Regions from separate parts of the Homo sapiens genome. Here region 2 is linked to region 1. A link means that fine-mapping ties the variant in region 1 to the expression of a gene that starts in the linked region. Tissue or cell type: whole blood. Region 1 holds a variant in brackets; the other region holds the start of a gene. All regions are shown on one strand. Distances are from middle to middle.

The links. PIP is the estimated chance that this variant, and not a neighbour inherited with it, causes the effect.
Region 2: it holds the start of RBP7, and the variant in region 1 is fine-mapped to the expression of RBP7 in whole blood (TOPMed, PIP above 0.99).

Annotation. Positions count from the first base shown.
Region 1 is chr1:10,223,303-10,231,385 of GRCh38, reverse strand. The region is part of intron 1 of KIF1B (kinesin family member 1B); the gene reads right to left. Among named protein-coding and RNA genes, the nearest start is that of KIF1B, 17 kb to the right of the region's middle. The variant G/T (reference allele first, on the strand shown) is at 3,624.
Region 2 is chr1:9,994,706-10,001,246 of GRCh38, reverse strand. RBP7 (retinol binding protein 7) reads right to left here and starts at 4,019. Exons shown (of 4, transcript NM_052960.3): 1 at 3,916-4,019. The coding sequence starts at 3,988. LOC124903840 (basic salivary proline-rich protein 2-like) reads left to right here and starts at 3,158. Exons shown (of 2, transcript XM_047436754.1): 1 at 3,158-3,565; 2 at 4,395-4,528. The coding sequence starts at 3,217. The coding sequence ends at 4,528. It also overlaps a transcript of NMNAT1 not described here. RefSeq lists a silencer at 2,070-2,270.

The sequences.
Region 1 (8,083 bases):
AAAAAAAGGGCACTGAACTCTCCATACATTAATTATAGTTTGAAACATTTGGTTACATGATGTATATATATTGTGTAATTAAATAGCAAAGGACAAAGACACTTTCTAGTCAATTCGTTTAACTATACAGTGATTTCCTTTAACTTCTGGGTTTTCTTTTGTTTTGTGTTTTTTTAAGACGGAGTTTTGCTCTTGTCGCCCAGGCTGGAGTGCAATGGCACGACCTCGGCTCACTGCAACCTCTGCCTCCCGGATTCAACAATTCTCCTGCCTCAGCCTCCTGAGTACCTGGGATTACTGGCGTACGCCACCACGCCCAGCTAATTTTTGTATTTTTAGTAGAGACGGGGTTTCACCATGTCAACCAGGCTGGTCTCGAACTCCTCACCTCAGATTCACCTGCCTCGGTCTCCCAAAGTGCTGGGATTATAAGCGTGAGTCACTGCGCCTGGCCAATTTCCTTTAACTTCAAAGATCCCTCAGATATGCCACTGACTCATGGCAGAGTCAAATCATTACATTTCACTACTGAATGAAGTAATAGGAAAAATGTGAACATTTTTTAGAGGAATAGTTTCCCTCCCAACAGAACAAAGCCAACACTACTGTGTGAAAAGAATCCAAGTAAGTAACTTCTGTAAGAAACAACCGGCCGCGTGCGGTGGCTCACGCCTGTAATCCCAGCACTTTGGGAGGCCGAGATGGGTGGATCACTTGAGGTCAGGAGATCAAGACCAGCCTAGCCAACACGGTGAAACCCCGTCTCTATTAAAAATACAAAAATTAACCAGGTGTGGTGGCACACACCTGTAATCCCAGCTATTCAGGAGGCTGAGGCAGGAGAATCACTTGAACCCAGGAGGTGGAGGTTGCAGTGAGCTGAGATCGCACCACTGCACTCCAGCCTGGGTCACAGAGTGAGACTCCGTCTCAAAAAAAAAAAGAAAGAAAAAAAAAACAACCAATTTTTCTAGTTAGGAAAAACTCTACACTCTATCCAATATAAAATCTTTTTCAAGAATAACCAAACAAAGGAAAAATCTAAAAAAGAAAAGTAATTACGAATCCAATTATCAGGAACCACAACAGAACTTAAATCTGACCAATATTTTTTCCAGATAATTAGGAATGCTAACCTCCAACTACACAACACCATAACCGATGTGTTCCCGAGAACAGGATAAATAAATAACATAAAAACCAAAGTCACTCTCTACCTCAATGCCCTACCCGTCCAGGCTACTGTACAGTGGCACAATCATAGCTCACTGTAACCTTGAACTCCTGGGCTCAAGTGATCCTCCCACCTCAGCCTCCAAAACAGCTGCGACTACAGGCACACACCAACACACCCAACTAATATTTTATTTTATTTGTAGAGACAAAGTCTTGTTATGTTGCCCAGTCTGTTCTCAAACTCCTGACTCAGCCTCCCAAAGTGCTGGGATTATAGGTGTGAGCCACCACGTCTGGCCCCTAATTTTCTTTTCTTTTTTTTTTTTTTTTTTTTTTTTTTTTGAGACGGAGTCTCACTCCATCACCCAGGAGGCTGGATGGAGTGCAGTGGCGCGATCTCGGCTCACTGCAAACTCCGCCTCCCAGGTTCACGCCATTCTCCTGCCTCAGCCTCCTGAGTAGCTGGGGCTACAGGCGCCTGCCACCACGCCTGGCTAATTTTTTGTATTTTTTTTTTAGTAGAGATGGGGTTTCACCATGTTAGCCAGGATGGTCTCGATCTCCTGACCTCGTGATCCACCCGCCTCAGCCTCCCAAAGTGCTGGGATTACAGGCATGAGCCACCGCACCCGGCTGTCTGGCCCCTAATTTTCTTAATAGCATCATCGCTATTTGAAATTCTTGTTTTCTGGAGCATGTCTATTGTCCATCTCTCACACTGTCTGTCTCTCACTCTACCACCAGAATGCTCAGAGATCTCCTGTCTCGTTTGCTAGCACTTACAACAGTACCTGACATAAGAGCTCAGTAAATGTTGATGAAATGAATGACATACATTTCCCAGTTGTGAGAATTATCTGTTTAAGTCCTTTGCCTAGTTTACTGATTTTTTTGTTTTTTAAATGTTTACATATTTTTATATTAATCTTTTTCTATTTGCTACAATGTTTTTTCTAGTCTGTTTGCCATTTTATTTTAAACTGATGGTTCTTTATTTAAATATCAAATATTTTTATGATCACATGTATCAAATGAAAACTTAGCATTTATTAACCTTCCCAATCAATGGAGCATGACTTATATTCACTAGTTGAGTACTATGCCAAGAGAATGAATGACACATTCAGAAAAAGCAAGACATAAAACACATTGCAACCTCCCCGAGTTCCCTCTGAAATACAGCCATCATCTTAACTCTCCTCATGTCCAAAAAACCATTATCTTCTCCCCTAAACTAGCAATCTCTGCCAATCTTCCCTATCAACAGTATTCTCCCAGGCCCCGATACCATAAATGTTGGAGTCATCTTTGTCACTACTCTTTGAAACCTTGTATTATTACCAACATTATTCACAAAATACCATATGGAAACTTCTAAGATATAAAGTTGCTTTATTCTATCCCTCCCTTCCTCTCATTCCCACTGATATTACCTCAATCCATGTCCTTACTACCACATACCTAGGATACTTGCAATAGCTGGACTGTTCTTTGGGCTTTTAGTCTTTGATCCAATAGTCCTTAAACAGAGTTGTATGAAACAGAATGACACGGGGGCCTTTTGAAAAACAAAGGAGTCTAGACTCTCCCAGTCTAGATAGGCCCCAGATATGGATTTGTTGATTTGGGTTAATTTTCAAAGATTATGTTACAAATACCCAGCTAAAAAGCACTGCTTTAAACCACTGCTTAACCCTGTTGCAAGATCAACCCCTCTAAAGCATGACTTTCAACGTCACTTCCAATAGCAAGAACGTTCTCTTGTTCCTAACATGTAAAAAATACTGCAAATTGATTTTTAAAAGTCAAATATATAAATTCATAAGCTTACGATACTTTTTTTTTTAAAAACTTCATTAATAGATCAATGGTTACAGAGGGAAGAAAATGCATTATCCTGAAAACAGCAAATAAAACAGAATTAAGCATACATCTAGTCTGTATAGCCTGTATAAAATATTCCAGGATAACCAAATAGTCAATGAAAGTAAGTTCTTTTTTTTCTCTTTTCTTTTTTTTTGAGATGGAGTCTCACTCTGTCACCCAGGTCAGGCTGGAGTGCAGTGGCATGATCTTGGCTCACTGCAACCTCCTTTTTCGGGATTCAAGCAATTCTCCTGCCTCAGCCTCCCGAGTAGCTGGGATTACAGAAGCCCACCAGCACGCCCGGGTAATTTTTGTATTATTAGTAGAGACAGGGTTTCACCATGTAGGCCAGGCTGGTCTCAAACTCCTGACCTCATATGATCCGCCCACCTCAGTCTCCCAAAGTGCTAGGATTACAGGTGTGAGCCACAGCACCCGGCTGAGGGTAAGTTCTTTACAGAAAAATTCTAGCTAATAAATGCAGAAGAAATGAAAGAATTATAGAATGTTACCTTTTCCCAACTCTTTTTTTTTTGAGATGAAGTTTCGCTCTTGTCACCCAGGCTGAAGTGCAGTGGCAC[G/T]ATCTTGGCTCACTGCAGCCTCAACCTCATGGGTTCAAGCGATTCTCCTACCTCAGCCTACCGAGTAGCTGGGATTACAGGTGCCCAACACACCACCAGGTTAATTTTTGTGGTTTTAGTAGAGATGGGGTTTCAACATGTTGGCCAGGCTGGTCTCGAACAAAGGAAATACACAGCTTATTAAGTATTCTTGCCCCACTCCCCTTAAAATGAAAACTGTTTAAAAAACCAAACCCTGAATAAAATCAAGCTTTAGATCTGACTACCAGTTTAGAAGACATATAGGGAGGAAAGAAGCAACTTAGATGACACATCAAAGATATAAACAGGCAAATTCAGTATATGAAACAATCTACAGAATAAATCAACCAAGTTTCTTCAAACAAATAGCATAATTGGGGAGACAGGGTTTTATAACCCTGGGCTTGTGGGCCAGGCACGGTGGCTCACGCCTGTCATCCTGGCACTTTGGGAGGCTGAGATGGGTAGATCACGAGGTCAAGAAATCAAGACCATCCTGGTCAACATGGTGAAACCCCATCTCTACTAAAGCACAAAAATTAGCTGGGCATGGTGACGTGCACCTGTAATCCCAGCTACTTGGGAGGCTGAGGCAGAAGAATTGTTTGAACCCGGGAGGCAGAGGTTGCAGTGAGCTGAGATCGCACCACTGCACTCCAGCCTGGTAAGAGAGCGAGACTTCATCTCAAAAAAAAAAAAAAAAAAAAAAGAGAGACTTGCGTTATTTATCAACCAAATACAATGTATTTTTTTGTTTGTTTGTTTGTTTTTGAGACAGGGTCTCCCTCTGGTTGCCCAGGCTGGGGAGTGCAGTGGCATGATCTCAGCTCACTGCAGCCTTGACCTCCTGGGCTCAGGTGATTCTCCCACCTCAGCTTCCCAAGTAGCTGGGATTACAGGCACACGCCACCACGCCTGGCTAGCTTTTTGTATTTTTAGTAGGGACGGGGTTTCGCTATGTTGCCCAGGCTGGTCTCGAACTCCTGGACTCATGTAATCTTCCAGCCTCAGCCTTCGAGTGCTGGGATTACAGGTGTGAACCACCACACTCGGCCTAAAAATACATTTTTTAGATAATCAGGTAGTCTGAAGATAGGCTGGGTATTAGATGATATTAAGGAATTTGTTAGGGGATGACAGAACAAGATTGCCAAAATGTTGATAGTTGTTGAATACTGTTGATATTTAAATTTTAAAAAACAAAACAAAACTTTTTTCTTTTGTGTTCTACCTAGGACCTACCAAAGTGTTGAATGTTACAAACAAGACAAGAAAGGCTGAAACCTCCTTGGTGGGCTTTAGATATAAAGTACTATGTATTTGTAACTATGAACCAAAACATTAACATCTCTAATACCTAATGTCCCCATACATACACACATACATTTTTCTATAGACTACTCGACTCCTCTACCTAGCTATCCTTCCAGCATTTCATTCAATCTCACACAACTAAAGCCGAAACCTCTATCCCCAAAACAATACCAGCTCTTTGGCCTCCTTTCTATTTCTTTTTAATGTTCTCACCATTCTGCTGTTCTCACACAGGCTAAAAGCTTGCTTTGTCTATCCATCTAATCAGCTTATATCTATAAAATCTCTCCATTTCTACCACCACCATTACCTTTTAGGCTTTCAATACTTCTCACCCAAGGCCTTCTTAACCAGCTTTCTCTCTCTTCCTCCTACCCTATCCATACTACACAATATCCCCATTTTCTTTTTTAAAAATATTTTTTATTATCTTTACCACAGTTATCCAATTAGGTGAATTATCCCTTTTCATCTGCCCTATCTGTACCACATAATATTGCCAAGATTCACCTTCCTGAAGTACAGATCTATTTCTATCACTGTCCACTTCAAAATCCTCCAAGTTCCCCTCCTGTCTACGAAGCAATGACTGAACTCCCCACAATGGCATTCAAAGTGTTCTGCAACATAAACCACCTATTTTTACAAGCCCACATGAACACTGCCTTCCAGCCACATTCTTTTACAACCACCCACCAGAGGACTTCCAGAATGCATCCCAAGTTTTTCTGCCCCTGTGTTTTTGCTCCAACTTTCCCTTTCCCCACTGTGTCCTTTGTCTTGTTCTTTTTAAATTCCAATTTATTCTTCCAGGACCTTCTCACTTGCTCCTGTCTAAAGTCTTGATGGATTCTCTCCACCCCAAAACCAAATACAATTGCTCCTCTATTTAACACTTTTCAAATCATTGACCTTACCCAAGGCAGAATAAATTACTTTTTTTATTGTTTTGTTGTTTTTTTCAGACAAGGTCTTGCTCTGTCAAGGGAATCATGGCTCACTGCAGCCTCAACCTCCCAGGCTCAAGTGACTCTCTTGTCTCAGTTTCCCGAGCAGCTGGAGCTACAGGGGTGCACCACCATGCCCGGCTAATTTTTTGTTTGTTTGTTTAAGACAAGGCCTCACTCTGTCCACCCAGACTGGAGTGCAGTGGAACCATCTCAGCTCACTGCAGCCTCAGCCTCAAGTAGCTGGGACTACAGGCATGTCCCACCACACCCAGCCTTAGTCAAGTTTCTAATCCTCTACAAGAGGGGTCCTCAACCCCTAGGCCACAGAGTGGTACAGGTCTGTGGCCTGTTAAAAACCAGGCCACACAGCAGGAGGTGAGCGGTGGGCAAGTGAGCATTATTGCCTGAGCTCCTCCTCCTGTGAGATCAGCGATGGCATCAGAGTTTCATAGAAGTGCAAACATTACTGTGAACTGTGCATGCAAGGGATCTAGGTTGCACACTCCTTATGAGAATCTAATGCCTGATGATCTGAGGTGGAACAGTTTCATCCTGAGACCATCACCCCAACCCTGTCTGTGGAAAAACCGTCTTCCACAAAACCAGTCCCTGGGGCTAAAAAGAATGGGGACAGCTGCCCTACAACACAGGATGGGTCTTGAATACAATAGTTATTTTTTTTGGTTGAATTCCTATTTAACTGGATGTCAACAAACTAACATTTAAACAGCATTAAATAAAAAACATAAATTGGGGCCAGGCATGGTTCCTCACGCCTATAATCCCAACACTTTGGGAGGCTAAAGTGAAAGAATTGCTTGAGGCCAGAAGTTCAAGACCAGCCTGGGCAACATATTCAGACACTCTCTACCAAAAAACATTTTTGTTTAAATTAGCTGGGTGTGGTGGCATGCATCGGTAATCCCAGCTACTTGAGAGGCTGAGGTGGGTAGATCACTTGAGCCCAGGAGTTGGAGGCTGCAATTAGCCATGATTCCATCACTGCACTCCAGTTTGGACAACAGAGCCAACAACATCTCAAAAAAACACACACACAAAACAGGCTGGGCACGGCAGCTCACGCTTGTAATCCCAGCACTTTGGGAGGCTGAGGCGGGCGGATCACAAGGTCAGGAAATCGAGACCATCCTGGCTAACATGGTGAAACCCCATCTCTACTAAAAATACAAAAAATTAGCCAGGCGTGGTGACACGCACCTGTAAACCCAGCTACTCGGGAGGCTGAGGCAGGAGAACCGCTTAAACCCGGGAGGCGGAGGTTGCAGTGAGCTGGGATATCGCACTACTGCACTCCAGCCTGGGCAACAGAGCGAGACTCCATCTCAAACAAACAAACAAAAACCACGGTCAGGGCTGTACACTCTGACTCACACCTGCTGTAATTCTGGCACTTTCAGAGGCCAAGGCAGGCAGATGGCTTGAGCTCAGGAGTTCAAGACCAGCCTAGGCAACATGTGAAACCCTATTTCTGCAAAAAAACACAAAAATTAGCCGGGCATTGTTGTGTGCTAATAACATCTATCCTTTTTAGAAGTTTATATTTAATTACTTTCTCAAAACAACCTAAACCTAAATATTTTTTCTGATTTTACTGTCTCATGGTAAAAACTTCAGGCCGGGCACAGTGGCTCACGCCTGTAATCCCAGCACTTTGGGAGGCCGAGGCGGGCGGATCATGAGGTCAAGACATCAAGACCATCCTGGCCAACGTGGTGAAATCCCGTTTCTACTAGAAATACAAAAATTAGCTGGTGTGGTGGCACGTGCCTGTAGTCCTAGCTACTCGGGAAGCTGAGGCAGGATAATTGCTTAAACCCGGGAGGCAGAGGTTGCAGTGAGCCAAGATCGCACCACTGCACTCCAGCCTGTTGACAGAGTAAGACTCCGTCTAAAAAAAAAAAAAAAAAAAACAAAACAAAACAAAAAAAAAAACCACCTTGCAACCATCTTCAAAATTTAGTGAAAATGTTATCCAGTCATTCAAAGCTACAGTTAAGTGGACTACAGAAAGTTATTCTGTCACTTCTCTACTACTATAAACAGTATCCATTATAATAGACATCCATCAAAGACTTAGTTTCAAAACTCCCTGCTCCTTTAAAGAATTACTTATGTAAGTCTGAAATCAAGTTTAAAATCCAGCAAGAAACAATA
Region 2 (6,541 bases), 230 kb after region 1:
AGAGAGTGATGCCAGAGCCCGGGTGGGAGCTGCAGGATCAGTTCCTGAACACTAGTTTTTAGACAAAAGGGAGTGATTTTCTGCCCTCAAATGAGATGCCAGCTGGAGCACATCATGAGATGTGTGCTGTGTATTTGCTGGTGACTTATTTGACCCTTAGCATCACTGCCAACAGGCATTTACCTCACTTCTACTACTAAAAAAGAGGCAATCAGCCAGGCACGGTAGCTCACGCCTGTAATCCCAGCACTTTGGGAGGCCAAGGCGGGTGGATCACGAGGTCAGGAGTTCAAGACCAGCCTGGCCAAGATGGTAAAACTCCGTCTCTATTAAAAATACAAAAATTAGCCAGGAGAGGTGGTGGGCACCTGTAATACCAGCTACTCAGGAGGCTGAAGCAGGAGAATTGCTTGAACTCAGGAGGCAGAGGTTGCAGTGAGCCGAGATCGCACCACTGCACTCTAGCCTGGGCAACAGAGAGAGACTCCATCTCAACAACAACAACAAAAAAAGAGGCGATCATTTATTATTTTCCTAGACCCTACAGTTTAAAGATCTAAGTACTATATCTGTGATTTTTTATGGAATGTATTTTCCTTACATGTACATGAACAAGCATATAAATTTAAAGTTAATTATATATTCAAGTAAATCAGTAAAATTCAAGATTGCTAGCTGAATTTTTTTTTTTGTCTTATTGACTTATTTTTTTTGAGACCAAGTCTCATGCTGTTGCCCAGGCTAGAGTGCAGTGTCGTGATCTGGGCTCACTGCAACCTCCACCTCTCAGGTTCAAGCGATTCTCGTGCCTCAGCCTCCCAATTAGCTGGGACTACAGGCATGAGCCACCATGCCTAGCTAATTTTTGTACTTTTAGTAGAGATGGGGTATTTCACCATGTTGGCCAGGCTGGTCTCAAACTCCTGACTTCAGGTGATCCACCCACCTCGGCCTCCCAAAGTGCTGGGATTATAGGCGTGAGCCACCTGCCCAGTCTGCTAGCTTAATTATTTTTTTTCAAGATGGAGTCTTGCTTTGTCTCCCTGGCTAGAGTGCAATGGCGCAATCTCGGCTCACTGCAACCTCCACCTTCTGGGTTCAAGCAATTCTCCTGCTTCAGCCTCACAAGTAGCGGGATTACAGGTGCATGCCATCATGCCCAGCTAATTTTTTGTATTTTTAGTAGAGGTGGGGCTTCACCATGTTGGCCAGGCTGGTCTTGAACTCCTGACCTCATGATCCACCTGCCTCAGCATCCCAAAGTGCTGGGATTACAGGTGTGAGCCACTGCACCCAGACCAACTTAATTCTTAAGATAAAATGTATTATAGTATTATGGCTGGGCACAGTGGCTCACACCGAGATCGCGCCACTGCACTCCAGCCTAGGCAATAGAGCCAGACTCCATCTAAAAAAAAAAAAAAAAAAAAAAGAGTATTACAGTATTATGTAAACAACCACTCTAGTGCTATAAGTGTGACCTAAGTACTTAGCACTTTAACAAATTGATGTAAGTACTTAGTACTTTAACAAATTAGATCTGAAGTTGAAACACAGTTGCTGGTTTTCAGAAAACCGTTCTGGATTTAAGGGTTTCTGGATAGGCGACCTCAGAACATGGCACCTTATGTCCATTTTCACGCTGCTGATAAAGACATATCCAAGAGTGGGTAACTTATTATTATTATTATTTTAGACAGAGTTTCACTCTTGTTGCCCAGGCTGGAGTGCAATGGCACCATCTCAGCTCACTGCAACCTCTGCCTCCTAGGTTCAAGTGATTCTCCTGCCTCAGCCTCCCAAAGTAGCTGGGATTACAGGCGCCCGCCACCATGCCCAGCTAATTTCTTTTTGGTATTTTTAGTTGAGACGGGGTTTCACCATGTTGGCCAGGCTGGTCTTGAACTCCTGACCTCAGTTGATCCACCCGCCTCAGCCTCCCAAAGTGCTGGGATTACAGGCGTGAGCCACCGAGCCTGGCAAGAGTGGGTAACTTATAAAGAAAAAGAGGTTTAACTGCCGCAGTTCCACGTGGCTGGGGAAGCCTCAAAATCATGGCAGAAGGCAAAAGGCACGTCTTACATGGTGGCAGGCAAGAGAGAATGAGAGCCAAATGAAAGGGGAAACCCCTTGTAAAACCATCAAATCTCATGAGACATTCACTACCACCAGAACAGTGTGGGGAAAACTACCCCATGATTCAATTACCTCTCCTCAGGTCCCTCCCACAACACATGAGAATTATGGGAACTACAACTCCCATGAGATTTGGGTGGGGACACAGCCAAACCATATCACTTGGCATTTGAGGAAATAACAGTAGCAGGAAGGTCCCCCTCAGACCTTCTTTTGCCCCTCTTCCCTGAAGCAGGCCATAAAAGAATTCTCTGCTCTTCCTCTGAAGAAGATCATAAGACTCTCAAGTGAGAGGTGCTTTTCCCATACCCAGAGGAACACTCTTATCTCTTGGGATATGAAAGAGCAAAATAAATGCCCCTTTATCAACTAAGATGGGCCCTAAGGTTAAGAAAACAAAAATTGGCCGGTGCGGTGCCTCACGCCTGTAATCCCAGCACTTTGGGAGGCCAAGGTGGGCAGATCACGAGGGCAGATGTTCGAGACCAGCCTGGCCAACATGGTGAAACCCCGTTTCTACTAAAAAATACAAAAATTAGCTGGGCGTGGTGGCGGGCGCCTATAGTCCCAGCTACTCGGAGAGGCTGAGGCAGGAAAATGGCGTGAACCCGGTAGGCGGAGCTTGCAGTGAGCCGAGATCGTACTACTGCACTCCAGCCTGGGCAACAGAGCGAGACTCCGTCTCAAAAAAAAAAAAAAAAAAGAAAGAAAGAAAGAAAGAAAAAAAGAAAACAAAAATTGCCCACGGGTCAAGGGTTCAGGGATTGGCCGGCACGGCAACTTCCCAGATTCCTAAAGCTACAAGAAAAACTACACTCGTGGCAGGGCGCGTGGCTCACACCTGTAATCCCAGCACTTTGGGAGGCCAAGGCGGGTGGATCACCTGAGGTCAGGAGTTGGACACCAGCCTGACCAATATAGTGAAACCCCTTCTCTACTAAAAGTACAAAATTAGCCGGACGTGGTGGCTGGCGCACGCGTGTAATCCCAGCTACTTGGAAGGCTGTGGCAGGAGAATCGCTTGAACCGAGGAGGCGGAGGTTGCAGTGAGTTGAGAGTCCGCGCACCGTTGGCACCGCGATGAGGGCGGGAAGCACAGCGCGGGGCCCCCGGGAGCAAGAACGCCGCGGGCACCCAGCCCTCGTGGGAGGCGGCGGTCGGGGCACGCCCCGGGCCGAACCAGGCTCTGCACTCCCGCGGGTGCCCGGACCTGAAGGGTCGTCCGCTGGCTCCAGGATTCTGCATCCCCGACCCGCTCCGGGTGCGCCGAGGCTGCTGGGACTTCGCTGCGGGAGCGCGCCCGGGGCCCCGGGGCCTGCACGGAAGGCGGCTGCGGGGAGGGTGGCCGGGCAGAGGCTTCGGTCCCGGGCGCCCCCTCCCCGGCCGGACCCCCCTCCCCGGCCGGACCCCGAGTCTGCAGTCTCCGCAGGTGTGCCGCGTGCGGGTAGAGACGGACGTGGGGCTGGACGCGGGCACTCAGGGACGGACGGGTGGGGGACCGACGGCCGGGGGAACAGAGGGCGTGGAGAGACGGCCGTGGGGACAGGGGGGCGGGTGGGCGCGGGAAAGGACGGACTGGGGGACTGAAGGACTGGGGTCCCGCGCCCGATGGACGGAGGCGCCAAGGACCAGCGGACTCGGGGGCGACTGGGCGACGGTGGGCGCAGCAGGGCGGAGGCACGGACAGAGGACGTACCTACAGGCCCGGCCCGGCCGCCTTCGCCTGATCCCGAGACCCACGGCGAGCCTCGCGCCGCCGCCGCCTCCCCTCCGCCTTACCTAGGGCCAGCATGTAGCCCTCGAAGTTGTCGCTGCTGAGCAGGGTCCAAGTACCGCTGAGGTCGGCGGGCATGGTCGGGGATCGCGGGACAAACCCGGCGGGCGGCCGGAGGCTCGGGCCGGGACCTATAAACCAGGCGGGGCGGGGCAGGGGGGTGGGGCCGCGCGCGGGAGGAGCAGGTGGGGCCGCGTGGGTCCCACTCACCCCTAGAAGCCGCTGCGCTCCCGGCCGCCTCAGCCCGGTGCTCCTGGCTCTGCCCACCGCGCGGCAGCTTCCCCCTTTCCTTGGGGCTTCCTCTCCTACTGCTTTCTCATGTCCCAGACTGTTTCGGGCCACATTTTCTTCCCTGCTTATATGTTAATGACCCAGGGATGATCTTCAAACTCATGGCATTGAATATTGTCAGCTTCAATAACAATATACCTCTCAACGTAACTCTCATGGTCTCAATAAATAGGAGTTTATTTTTCTTAACAAGGAGTCCTGAGAGAAGTGATTGCTGGTGATGATTCGCACCTAGGAATCACAGTGATTCGCACCTCGGTAACGCCGCAGCTTCGTCTCTGTGACTCTGGTGGCCTTTTATTCCTGCTTGTTACCTCCTGGTCATGAGCTGGCAGCTGGGTTCCCAGCCAGGACATCCACATTCAAGGTAGGGAAGAGGGAAAGCACCAAAGGTCAGTATCCCTGCAGCACAAACCTCCCCATCTCCTATAAGTCTGGATAGTTGGAAAAAAGAAAAGAAATTACCCAGCAGGTTTCTGTGTACATTTCATTAGCCAAAACTGTATCAATGCCACTTCTAACTGCAAGGGGGCCTGGGGATTCTAGTCTGCAGCATTTAGCCTCAGAGCAGAGAAAAGCAAAGGAGAAGGGGTGGGAATATGGGCTAACCTACAACATTAGCCACAAACACCGCCTAGATATGCTGGCTCCAAGACTGACTTATTGATTTTATTTTTATTTTTTTTCTTTTGAGACAGAGTCTCACTCTTTCTTTTTTCTTTTTTTTTTTTTTTTTGAGACGGAGTCTCGCTCTGTGCCCAGGCTGGAGTGCAGTGGAGAGATCTCGGCTCACTGCAAGCTCCGCCTCCGGGGTTCACGCCATTCTCCTGCCTCAGCCTCCCGAGTAGCTGGGACTACAGGCGCCCGCCAACACGCCCGGCTAACTTTTTATATTTTTATTAGAGACGGGGTTTCACCGTGTTAGCCAGGATGGTCTCGATCTCATGACCTTGTGATCCGCCCGCCTTGGCCTCCCAAAGTGCTGGGATTACAGGCCTGAGCCACTGCGCCCGGCAGAGAGGGAGTCTCACTCTATCGCCCCGGGCTGGAGGGCAGTGGTTCCATCTCGGCTCACTGCAACCTCCGCCTCCCAGGTTCAAGTGATTCTCCTGCCTCAGCCTCCCGAGTAGCTGGGATCACAGGTGCCCATCACCATGCCCAACTAATTTTTTGTATTTTTAGTGGAGATGGGGGTTTCATCATGTTGGCTAGGCTGGTCTTGAGCTCCTGACCTCGTGATTCGCCTGCCTCAGCCTCCCAAAGTGCTGGGATTATAGGTGTGAGCCACCGCACCCGCGGTATTTATTTTTTCATTTATTCTTTTTATTTTATTTTATTCTATTTTATTTTTTGAGACAGACTCTCACTCTGTCGCCTAGGCTGGAGTGCAATGGTGCAATCTTGGCTCACTGCAACCTCCGCCTCTTGGGTTCAAGCAACTCTCCTGCCTCAGCCTCCTGAGTAGCTGGGATTACAGGTACCTGCCACCATGCCTGGCTAATTTTTATATATTTTAGAAGAGGTGGAGTTTCACCATGTTGGCCAGGTAGGTCTCGAACTCCCAACCTTAAAAGATCCACCCACCTAAGCTTCCCAAAGTGCTGGAATTACAGGCATGAGCCACCACACCCAGACTGACTATTTTTTGAGATAGAGTCTTGCTCTGTTGCCTAGGCTGGAGTGCAGTGGTATGATCATGGTTCACTGTAGCCTCAACCTCCTGAGTTCAAGTGATCTTCCTGCCTCAGCCTTCTAAGTAGCTACAACTACAGGCATGTGCCACCATGCCTGACTAATTTTTTTAATTTTTTATAGAGATGGAGTATCCCTGTGTTGCCGGCGGTTGGTCTCAAACTCCTAGGCTCAAGCAACCCTCCAACCTTGGCCTCCCAAAGTGCTGGGATTACAGGTGTAAGCCACTGTGTCCAGCTCAAGATTTATATGTCAATTTATGACCTCTCCCATGAGTTCCAGACTCAAATATAATAAAAGCTAGCAGTCCGTGCATGGTAGCTCACACCTGTAATCCCAGCACTTTGGGAGACCGAGGTGGGTGGATCACCTGAGGTCAGGAGTTTGAGACCAGCCTGGTCAACATGGTGAAACCCCATCTCTACTAAAAATACAAAAAATTGGACAGGCGCAGTGGCTCAAGCCTGTAATCCCAGCACTTTGGGAGGCTGAGGCGGGCAGATCACGAGGTCAGGAGATCAAGACCTTCCTGGCTAACATGGTGAAACCCTGTCTCTACTAAAAATACAAAAAAATTAGCCGGGCGTGGTGGCGGGCACCTGTAGTCCCAGCTACTCGGGAGGCTGAGGCAGGAGAATGCGTGAACCC